Linked DNA regions of Homo sapiens: all the other regions are reported to be linked to region 3. The links are microRNA targets in miRTarBase. Many come from high-throughput screens and were not tested one by one. Region 3 holds a microRNA gene; each other region holds the end of a gene's coding sequence.

The links. The annotated mature microRNA hsa-miR-125b-5p reads UCCCUGAGACCCUAACUUGUGA and lies in region 3 at 2,015-2,036, opposite strand. An mRNA with a match to its seed (bases 2 to 7 or 8) in the 3' UTR can be bound and repressed. Matches are read on the target gene's strand: a 7mer-m8 pairs with bases 2 to 8, a 7mer-A1 pairs with bases 2 to 7 and ends in A, and an 8mer does both.
Region 1: miRTarBase lists FAM174B as a target of hsa-miR-125b-5p. Seed matches in the 3' UTR shown: 7mer-A1 at 1,030-1,036.
Region 2: the mRNA of RAB4A is a reported target of hsa-miR-125b-5p. The part of its 3' UTR that is shown has no 7-base or 8-base seed match.

The regions. Positions count from the first base shown.
Region 1 is chr15:92,616,812-92,619,811 of GRCh38, reverse strand. It overlaps FAM174B (family with sequence similarity 174 member B), which reads left to right. Exons shown (of 3, transcript NM_207446.3): 3 at 353-2,364. The coding sequence ends at 356. Among named protein-coding and RNA genes, the nearest start is that of FAM174B, 37 kb to the left of the region's middle.
Region 2 is chr1:229,302,634-229,305,633 of GRCh38, reverse strand. It overlaps RAB4A (RAB4A, member RAS oncogene family), which reads right to left. Exons shown (of 8, transcript NM_004578.4): 7 at 2,645-2,772; 8 at 1-1,828. The coding sequence ends at 2,657. Among named protein-coding and RNA genes, the nearest start is that of RAB4A-AS1, 33 kb to the right of the region's middle.
Region 3 is chr11:122,097,795-122,102,109 of GRCh38, forward strand. MIR125B1 (microRNA 125b-1) reads right to left here and starts at 2,050; the gene lies at 1,963-2,050. All of the region lies in intron 4 of MIR100HG (mir-100-let-7a-2-mir-125b-1 cluster host gene), which reads right to left.

The DNA.
Region 1 (3,000 bases), not on the chromosome of region 3:
GAGTTTACAATATTTCCTCTCTGGACTGTCACAGAAGAAGTTTTCCAACCCCTAGTGTAAACACCCTGGAAGTGCTGGCAAGGAGAGGGATATAAGGAGAAAGAGGTTGTGTTCTAGGGAGTCTGTGTGGGGAGCTGGGGGAGGGATCCTTAGTTGGGAACTGTGGGGAGGGAGGGGGTTTGCTGGAAGAGTGGATTGCGCCTTCCAGACAGCACGCTCAAAGGTCCTGTGGCTGGGGACTGTGGCCTTTTCACTGGCTGAGAGGGTGAGGGATAGAGATGTTCAGGAGGGGTCAGAATGGGTGCGAGGCTCTGCCAGAAGGGGCTTACTCTTGTCCTTCCCTTTCTTTTAGGTAAAACCTGTTTCCCAGCCTGGTGGCATCCTGTGGAAAGTTGGTCAGCTGCAACCTGGGGTGTGAAGGACTGGACCTGGAAGCCCTCTTGCGTCGGAGGTGTTGAAACCAAAACGAACGTTATGTATAAAACCCCAGCTCCATCGTGCGTGTCAGGCATCTGCTCAGACTGTCACTGGCAAGCTCGTTTCCACGTCACCACAATGGAGTTGCTTCTGCCACCCTTTGGGCATCCCTTTAAAGTGCCCCCTACTTCTACTCCCCATGTAAGAGGCTTTGTGCCTTGCTAAGGAGCAAAGGGTAGAAACATGTTGATTTTAAAGAAGTTTTTTTAAGACAATTGTTGACAATAGTAAAAGAGATCAGGAGGATCAAGAATCTAAAACAAGCCTGAAGGATGTCCAACTGTGTATTTAGAATTTCCGACATTCTTCTCTACTGGATCTACACATTGGACCCCATCTGATCCTTTGCTGCTTTTTTGGCTTGGTCAGGTCCTGGCCTCATTTTGGCGTTACCTGTGTCAGAGTTCAAGGTGGATGTGCTTAGAGCTGGTCAGCCCCTTCCAGACCTGGACACGTCTGTGGCTCCTTTTCTTTCTTCCTTTTTTTTTTTTTTTAAAAAAAAAAAAGGTTCAGCAGAAATCAGCGTGGCTAGTTCACAAAGAATTTCCAGTATCAGGGAAAAACTGTGCGTGTGTGTGTGTGTGTGTGTGCACGTGTGTGCGTGTGCACGTGTGTGATACCTATAAAACAGTTTCTCCTTCTCTGAAGGGAAAGGAAAGTGCTAGGCAGCCTGTGATTAGCAACATTCTTTGTGCTTTTTTGTTGTTCCTCTGCTCTGTCACAGTTCTACGTTGTTTGCCTTAGAAATGTAATTTTTAAAAACCATTTTAAAAATGAACGGTGATTTGGCTGGCTGGAAAAAATCACACTGTCAGGGGACTATATTTGAAGTCAGTCTAGACGGGGCTGGACTAGGAACCCACCTGGACCCAGGAGACCCCACAGGACCCAGGAGGTCCCTGCCGGAAGGCAGAGGTTCAGGTGAGAGTGGCTCACCTCTGAGCTGGTGAAGTGAGGACTTGCCTGTGACATGACCCAGGGATCTGCTGCTGGCTTCTGGAGACAGGGCCTTGGGCTGACTTCTCAGGTTGATTGAGGCCTCCTGACTAGCGGTGTTCCCAGGCTAGAGGTGATTGGCTGCAACAAAGATGCTTCTATTAGTCTATTAGCAGTGCCTTCGGGACCCTGGGATTTTGCTCTCTCTAGAAAGGTGTTTTTTATTTTTTTATTTTTTATCTCCCCCTTTTTTCCTGGCTTTGCTCCAGGGTTTGTGTATTTGCCTGTTTATTGTCCTGCTCTTTTTTTTTTTGGATGAAAACTCCAGCCTTTCCTGACTCACCTCCATCTTCGGTTCTTCAGTTTTCTGAGAAGAGTTGGGATATGTGGGAAGGGGCATGGGAGCTCGGCAGCCTCCGCCTGCCAGGAAGGCAGTTTCGCCTCTGCAGGAAAGAGCAGAGCCCGTGGGAAGCCCTGGGTGAGGGTGGCGCAGCCGGCCCAGCACGCATGGTATTGCCAGCCACGGGGGGCCTGCGTGTAGTCTCTGCTCCCTGCATTTCACCTTCTTTGTTGACTTTCCTTCTCTGTTTTCCCCCATCTGTTTGCCAGAGGGGTGGGACTGGCAACAGAACAGCCGTGGCTGCTTTATCTCTCCTCTCCACGGTGTACTCAGGCCTGAGTGGTGACTCACGGGAGCCTGGCCACCTCGCAGCTGTTCGCCCCCTCAACCTTTGAACTGGAACTGCTGGCTCACACAGGGTTTTCGACAACTGCAGCTGAATCTCATGGAAAAGCTGGATTCCTCTGCCTTACGCAGAAACACCCGGGCTCCATCTGCCAGGTGCTTGCCACTGGTCCTGGCAGAAATGGCGGCTGCTGAAAGTGACCTTCCAAATCCTTGGTGGCACTTCAGCGCCACAGGCTCTCCAATAAAAACCCTTTACACACAAACCATGAGTACCTTGGGCTTGGATGTTTTCTGTGGTGCCGGCCAGCGGGGCACCTTTTGTGAAGACAGAGGTGGGTGGGCCCAAGGCTGAGGAGGAGGGCGGGGATGGGAGCTGGGCTGGAGGTGTTTGGATCCTGGTGATTAGAGAAAAGCTTGGAAATGAAAAAGGCTTGGTGGTGGAGGGGCATGCATGCTGTTTTTACGTCTACATATACAATTGGAGGCTCACTCGCTCATTTCCTGGAAGCTTGCTCCTTGGCTAGGAAATACTGAGGCCTAACTGTTTCCAGAGAATCTTGGGGCATCTCCAGAGAAGATAGAATCAATCACATAAAAAACTGCTGGCTTGTAACTGCCTCATACCTGGCTTGCTTTACTCTATGAGTAAGCATGGGATGCATCTGGGCCGGGTTCACAGCGAGCTGAGAAAAAGCCGGGGGAAAAGCCCATTTGCTGCCGTCCAGCTGGTTCCCTTGGAGGTCACCAAGGAGCTGGGGGTGTGGTCTGTGTCCCTCCTCCCTGAGGAGCTACTCCTGTGCTCCGTCTTCTCTACCACTGTAGCAGTGACTAAGGTTCTCCAGGGTAGCTCTTTCTCCAAACAGCTGCGCTGGAAGCCAGCCCTAGAGAGTGGGTTTCCC
Region 2 (3,000 bases), not on the chromosome of region 3:
AGAGCTTCCTGAAAACTTAATGAGTTGCGGGAAATAGAAACATGACATTTATTACTAGCCTGAACAATACCCAATTATCTCTCCTCCTCATTCTCCCTAAAGGCAAAGCCTGATTAAGAACCACCATGGTTTGGTTCTCCAGCAACTTTTATTGGCCAAAGGATGCAGAAGGATATATGGTGTCTGTGGTTTAATTAACAGGATCGTTTATAAAACAACTTTACATTTATCTTATTTTTAAAATTCTTGCTTTTGAATAAGCTGATGTGTTAGAATAGACATGCTCCTATCCCATGCAAAAAGCTGTTCAAAAATGAGCAGCTTGCAAATCTATCATAAATGAGACATTGAATAAAATATTCTTACAGTGAGGTCTAAGAAGTAGTTCAGTCTGAGAATTTGCTTCAGATACTTTTTGAAATAAAATATTCAAGGCATAAAAAAAGCAAAACTCAAAATATCTAAAACAGATACATACTGATATTTTTATCCTAGTCATTTCCCAGAGTTTTTATGTGTCTCTGTGCTCTGCTGATTAAAATAAACAACAAAAGCAGTAGGCATCTTCTAACTAAAAGTTAATTTACTAGTCTTCAACTAAAAAGTCACAGTGGAAGAACATATATAAGGTGAAGAAAGCTTTTTAACCTTTCAGATTTAAATAATACTGCATTTCAACTTTAAAGAAAGGTTCCACCATATATTTTTTGCACTGACATTTTAAAATACAAGAACAAGTCTTTGTAATACAATATATACTTCAATATACCCAATATACCTTATATGAATTAAAAACATGTCAACTGGATAACTGTAGTAAGGCATTTAAGTATTCAGCAGAAGCCATAAAGAAATTTCTTAATGAGTGGTGTCCATTTAATATTAACTGGATTTAGTAGGTTTCCTTAAAATGAACAGGAAACAAAAGATGTGAAAAACAGGCAGTGATGCCATTATACTGAATTCCAGAAAAAGCACAGTACAATGTGTTTTCTAGCAGGGAGACCAGCAAACTGGAAGTGGATGAGCGGCCCCAGCTTACATGGTCTATTGTATTTGATCAACTGCTGAGAGAAGTATTAGTAGCCCAGTAGGTTTGGGTAAAGGTACCAGAATCCTTAGTGCTAGTCTCACAGCCAAAAACAGAGCAGGTACTCCAGATATACTTCCTGAACTGACCTGGATGAAGAGGCTTTAAAATCAACAGAGCTGGACAGTATAAAGTTCACGGAAAAACTCAATTTTTCATTTTATTTTGGTATATTAGTGAATGTCTACTGATCTAGTATTTCAAGTGTGGATCACGTAAACACCATGTAGAATGTAGTAAACGGAGTTAAATAAGAAAACACACTGGCTATCAATGCCAGAGTCTTTGAATATCAGGTCATAAATATAACCAATTGTGCAATATAACCAACATGATGAGAAAAGCACACCTCACAATTGACAATTTTAGTTCATATGATTAAAAAAAATAAAATCTGAAACTGCATTTAGTGCCACATTCTATCATATCATACATCAGATTCCATGCTGTGGAGCCGCACTGGGCTACAGGACATACAGTACATATAGCATGTTTTAAACCGAAAGTGAAAGGAAAAATATGAAACAGAAAATTTTTACATACACATCTAACGGTGTTGTCCATTTAATTCGATTTATATGATTTGCTGTGCCACTTTGACTGGCTTGCAGAACACCCCAAATTCTCTTTTCCCCATAAAGATCTACTTCCATACAGAGTAGAAAAAGATGGTGGTAAAAAAAACTTCAGATTCTTCAGGTTCCAACGATTGTGTCCCAAATGCCACTGTATGAACACCTAAAAAATATTAAGAACAATTTCAAAATCTGCATAACTATAAATGCAAAAGTAAATACAGCTTAAAGCCTAAAAGAGAATTCGTGAATATCTTGTCTTTTAACACTTGCCTGTGCCTACTACATGATGTCGACTATAAATAAAACGTCCACTGTGGTAAATGGGAAAAAAGAAGAAGCTTTAAAAAGTTAAAGGGAGACATTTGTCAATTTTATAAATAGGCCTCCTGTTTTAGCAAAAGGCACATTCATTTAGACCTCAATCAATCCAGGAAGGGCTCCTCACTGACATAAGGAATCAGGATATCTCACCCTTCCCATCAACCACCACCTGCCCTTCCTTTCTTTCTGAACAAGAGCATAAGAATTTCCTATAGAGTATAAATTCTTTCAGTTAGAACATCCAACTTTAACTTATGGGTTCTTCTCCTTCTCTTTTTTTTTTTTCTGAGACAGTTCTCACTTTATCGCCCAGGCTGGAGTGCAGTGGTATGATCTTGGCTTACTGCAACCTCCGCCTCCCAGGCTCAAGCAATTCTCCTAAGTTTCATGAGTAGCTGGGACTACAGGTGCACGCCACCACGCCTGGCTAATTTTTTGTATTTTGTAGAGATGATGTTTCACCATGATGCCTAGGCTGGTCTCGAACTCCTGAACTAAAGCAACTGGCCCACCTCAGCCTCCCAAAGTGCTGGAATTAGAGCCACTGCACCCGGCTGGGATCCCCTCTTTTTCATACTGCAGCTTCCCAAAGCTTTAACAGGCCTCTGCACTTGAGCTTGCCAGGAACTCAGGGCAGGGAGGTGTCCAAACCCACCTGTGTGCTCTCCTAACAACCACACTCCTGAGCGTTCGGGGCCTGTGCGCGCCGCGGTGACCTCAGCTGTCTCAAGGCAGCATCTCCGTACTGAATACCTGAGCCCATTCTTTCTGGGTCCAGCTCACCTAAGGACCAAGCAAGTCTTCTTTTAAAAAAGGCTTTTATGTTTCTTTGATTCCAAAAATAGATTAAAAAAAAAAAAAGCAAAGTACAGAACACTGTGTATATATCCCACCATTCTGAATAAAGGGAAAAAACTATATATATGTTTGCTTGCACCGGCACAAAACATCTCTAGCAGGATACATAAGGAACGGCTGATTCGGAGGAGTTCTAGATGGCTGAGGACAGGA
Region 3 (4,315 bases):
TAGTCTAGACTGGTAGTGATTGAACCAACCACCAATTATGTTATTCATTTCACTGAACTTCACTGATGGGCTCGGTGAGGAAGAAGGGGTGTTGAGAAACCTGCCCTTGACTGAAGCAGTTGCCTGCTGAAATATAAAATCTTGTGTCGTTATGCACTTTTAAATGCCTGGGTGATCAGTTGTATGATAGCAACCTCGGAACATGAGCAATCCACTTGAAAACATGTAAAAACCTGAGAGTGCCTTGAAATACAAATTAAAACACTTGTATTAAATTACTACCCTGTTATCACTGAAAATCACGGAAGAATTTTACCTGGCATGTTTTTATTGATCCATGTATACATTTTCATAGAGTAAACTGCAGATATATTTTAACTTCAAAAAGCACCAACTGTTTTACAAATGTTGGATATGAATAATGTGGTAATATAGATTCGTAAGTTAAATAGATGCCTTGCTATAATTTCCAAATACCTATGCATACACATCAGCTAAGGTAGGGGAAGTCATTAAACCATTGAATATAAACTAACGATGACTCGACAATCAAATAACTATTTTTTTTGAAGCACATTCGGACTATCAAAGACTGGAAAGTAATATTCTAATATTACTACACAAGAGGTTTCAACAAAAGACGTGGTGCAATCGTTGCATAGTTCATATTCTCAGTTCAATTTTCTGATACAAAATGGTTTCTTGATTGCAATTTGGCATTAATGACTAAAATTGCAATAAACACTTAAAATAAAAAACAATAACAGGCAAAGAACAGTTTCCCTAACCTTCAATTACATGTATAAAACAAGGCTACAACCAATATAAAGTCTTTAGAAGAAGAAAGCATTTGGATTGGGGTTGATTTAGGTGTTTTTCAAACATAGAAGAGAAATGTTGGCCCAATAATACGAAAATTGTTTAAATGATATTTTATACTAGAATTTTTCACAACAAAGGAAAGGTAAGTTACTGTTTCTCTTCCCCAACTACGAGACAGCCCTAAATCACTGAAATGATTCAGTTATAAAAAGTTACAGCTCAAGAAAACTACAAACTAGGTAATGCTAGCCATTACCTTAAGAAAGGATAATTTTAAATGTACAGTTTGGGTGTTATAAAACCTTTTTTGGATTGAATTTAAGTACTGATAAAATTTTCCTTAGTTTTAAAATGAAAACCAGTATTTGTTACTCCCAAAGAATACGATAATTGTGTTTGCTGTTGCTGTTGCTTTCATTTTACATATTTAGAAGATTTATTTCCAATCTTTATCACCTTTATATCCATAAAGTATAACATTTTGTAAAAGATACCAAGCAAGGAGGTGGTATCCCTCCTTTTATTTTTAAAAAATCTTGCAAAGTCATACAAACTTAATTTTTATTAATACCATAACTTCCATCCTTTGTGTGGAATTGCAAGAATAGAATTTTAACCTATTAATATTTTACTCCAAACTATTAGTTTGCCTTTATCTGCGTCTGTATGTTCACTGTCTAGCCATCCATGATACACATGTGTGGACACTGAATATATAATATATTCACATGCCCATTTTAATTGGGCACAATTTTAAGATTAACTGTGGAGTTTGAAAGTTGGAGACATGGGGCATGCTGGGACTTCAGCTGAGATGTTCTGAGGTCAAGCACCAGGTACTGAGCTGTTCTTGTTACGCTCGTATACTACTGCGTGTTGCTCTCAAGGAATAGACCAGGCAGATGAGTTCCACAAGCCTCAGGCATCAATAACATGCATACATACACATAGCAGCCAACACGCTATTAAAGCAAAATATATACCTACTTTAACAGAAATCCAGGAGCTGCCACTCTCTGGTCACCTGATCCCATCTAACAATGAAAACCTCAGAGGTATACTCAATCACCTCAGACAAACTTTCTTTTCTTTTGTTTTTGCTTTAAAGAATAAAATTCCACCAAATTTCCAGGATGCAAAAGCACGACTCGCAGCTCCCAAGAGCCTAACCCGTGGATTTAAACGGTAAACATCACAAGTTAGGGTCTCAGGGACTGAGAGGAGCGCAACAATGTTTTCTTTCTTGAGACAAAGCAAAGCAAAACAAGAATGACAGGCAATTTCTGTTCGAGGTTCATAACTAAGATGCAACAAACAGGTGGTATGGTATTTCTTCTCTAAGCTCCTTTCCTTCACAAAATTGAGATTCCGTTTAAGCCTAATACATATATACACACATACGCAGTATCTGGGGGCGCATATACAATCACGCACATACACATACGATCACGAGTACATCAGAGAAAACTCTTTCAAGATTTGGGCAAAATAGTTCACTAAAACGGAAAATAATATGCACAGACTCAGAAATGCCCAAGTTTTTAAAACCATAGTCTACAATAAGGATTTAGTGTCTTTTCAAAGCTTTAATTTACGACTAGCACAAATGACTGAAGAGAAAATAGGAGGCATCTCTTTCCCCCAGGGCAAGTATGCCGCATGCAAAAATCATAGAAATCGGGTTTTCAAAGGAGAAGACCAAGAAGTAGGATTCGGAGGCTATAGAAGTGTAAAGACGAATAGCGTTCTGAACTCACCCATTCGAAGCGGAGCGGGGCCCGCACAGCCTCCTGTGGCACCATCCCGAGCAAGGGGGGAAAATGAGAGCTCTCAGTGCGCTAGGCTGGGCGAGGTGTTTCAATAGAGGACGGAGAACGGGGGCGGGGAGGGGAGGCGGGGGCAGGAAGCGATACACCAAATCTCGAGACTGTAACTCTGTAGCTTATGCTTTGACGAGAGAAAAAAGGGCAGTTGGGTGGGAGTGGAGGGAGGGGCTGGAACTGATCAAATTTGGAAAATATTCACTTAAAAATTAAAAAAAGGCGGGGGGGGGGGGGGAGTATGAAACCTCCCCAGAGCTGCTTTTTGAAAAATTTCTTCCTTCTTTCTTTAGCGTGCACTTTGCCAGTCCTGCAAACGGAGGCTTCGTCTGCATCAGCTGCTTGGCTGAAGTCAAGGCCAAATCACCAAGAGCGAGCACCAGGCTGTCATTTGGTAGACACGAAGTGGGAAGGGCTGGGTGCGGGCTGGGGAGAGACATTCCCCCCGCACCTCCCGCTGCGGATTCTTTGAAGCCTTTGGCCAATATTTCAGAGGAATCCGAAGCATAATTCCCCTCCATCTTCGCAGACAGCCCCTGGTTCTGTACCTGATAGATTGTCGCTTTCCTCATCAGACTGGAAGTGGGGCTTTCCTGTGCCGCCACCAAAAATGAAAGGAAAAGGAGGGGAGGCAGATGGGAAGATGACCCTTTTACAAATGTTTCTTCTCCTTTTTCTTTCTGTTTTTCATTTCATTTCTTTCTTCTTCTTGTTCTTCTTTTATTCCAGGCCTGAGCAAGGTAGATGGCTGGCTAGTCAAAGAGAATGACAAAGCAGCCACAGCCAGGAGGACACTGGAGAGGCCTCAACGCACTTAGTAAAAATGCTAAATATTTTTTTAGATATTTCCATATGCAACTAAAAACAGTTAGAGCTCTAGACTCTCCCCCTCCCCTCCTTTAAAAATGGAATCATACTAGCAACACAGCTAAATTATGTCTCTTCTCCCTCTGTACAGTGTCTGTTTAGCAGCCCCCCCACCCCCACCTTCAAGACAACTTTTTTCTCACCTCTGTGGGTTCTTCTCAGGCACAATCCTCCGTTGAGCTCAGAGGCTCTCCTTTTTCTCTCCCTTCCCTTTTCCTTTTCCTCTCAGAAAAGCTAGTCTGTCATCATCACACCTAGCTTCTCTCTCGCTCGCTCAACCTCTCTCCTTTTCTCTTTTACCATTAAAATATAATAATAATAATGGCCCTTTCGACATAGCAGCATGAAGTGGCTGCCTTTGAGAAGCACATTTAATCTTTACTGGCTCCCCTAGGCTTCAGTGAAGAAGGAGAAGGCAAGGAAAAAAAAAGGAGAGAGAGAAAAAAAGATTGTAAGGGAGGCTGCTGACGGACAGCAGGCATCAGGCACAAATCAGCGACAAGTTGAATTTTCCTAGACCACACTGCCCCCTTTCTTCTCGGCTTGCTCCCTGGGCTCCTGGAAAGCCTGAGTGTCTGGTTACAGGAGGCAACGGGTCTCTTTTTGCCAACCATGGTGCAGATTCCTCGCATGCCTGCTTAAATCTCTGGCAGAATAAGAAATCAATATCCCCCTCTAATCACCTTTAGCTCTTCGATGGCTTCCCCCCTTTTCTGAGAATCCACTTGGCTCTCCTCGCCGCTCCCCCGCCCTGCCGGGCTCCTACATACAAAGCTTGCAGCCCTGTCATTTCTCACTTCCTTCCA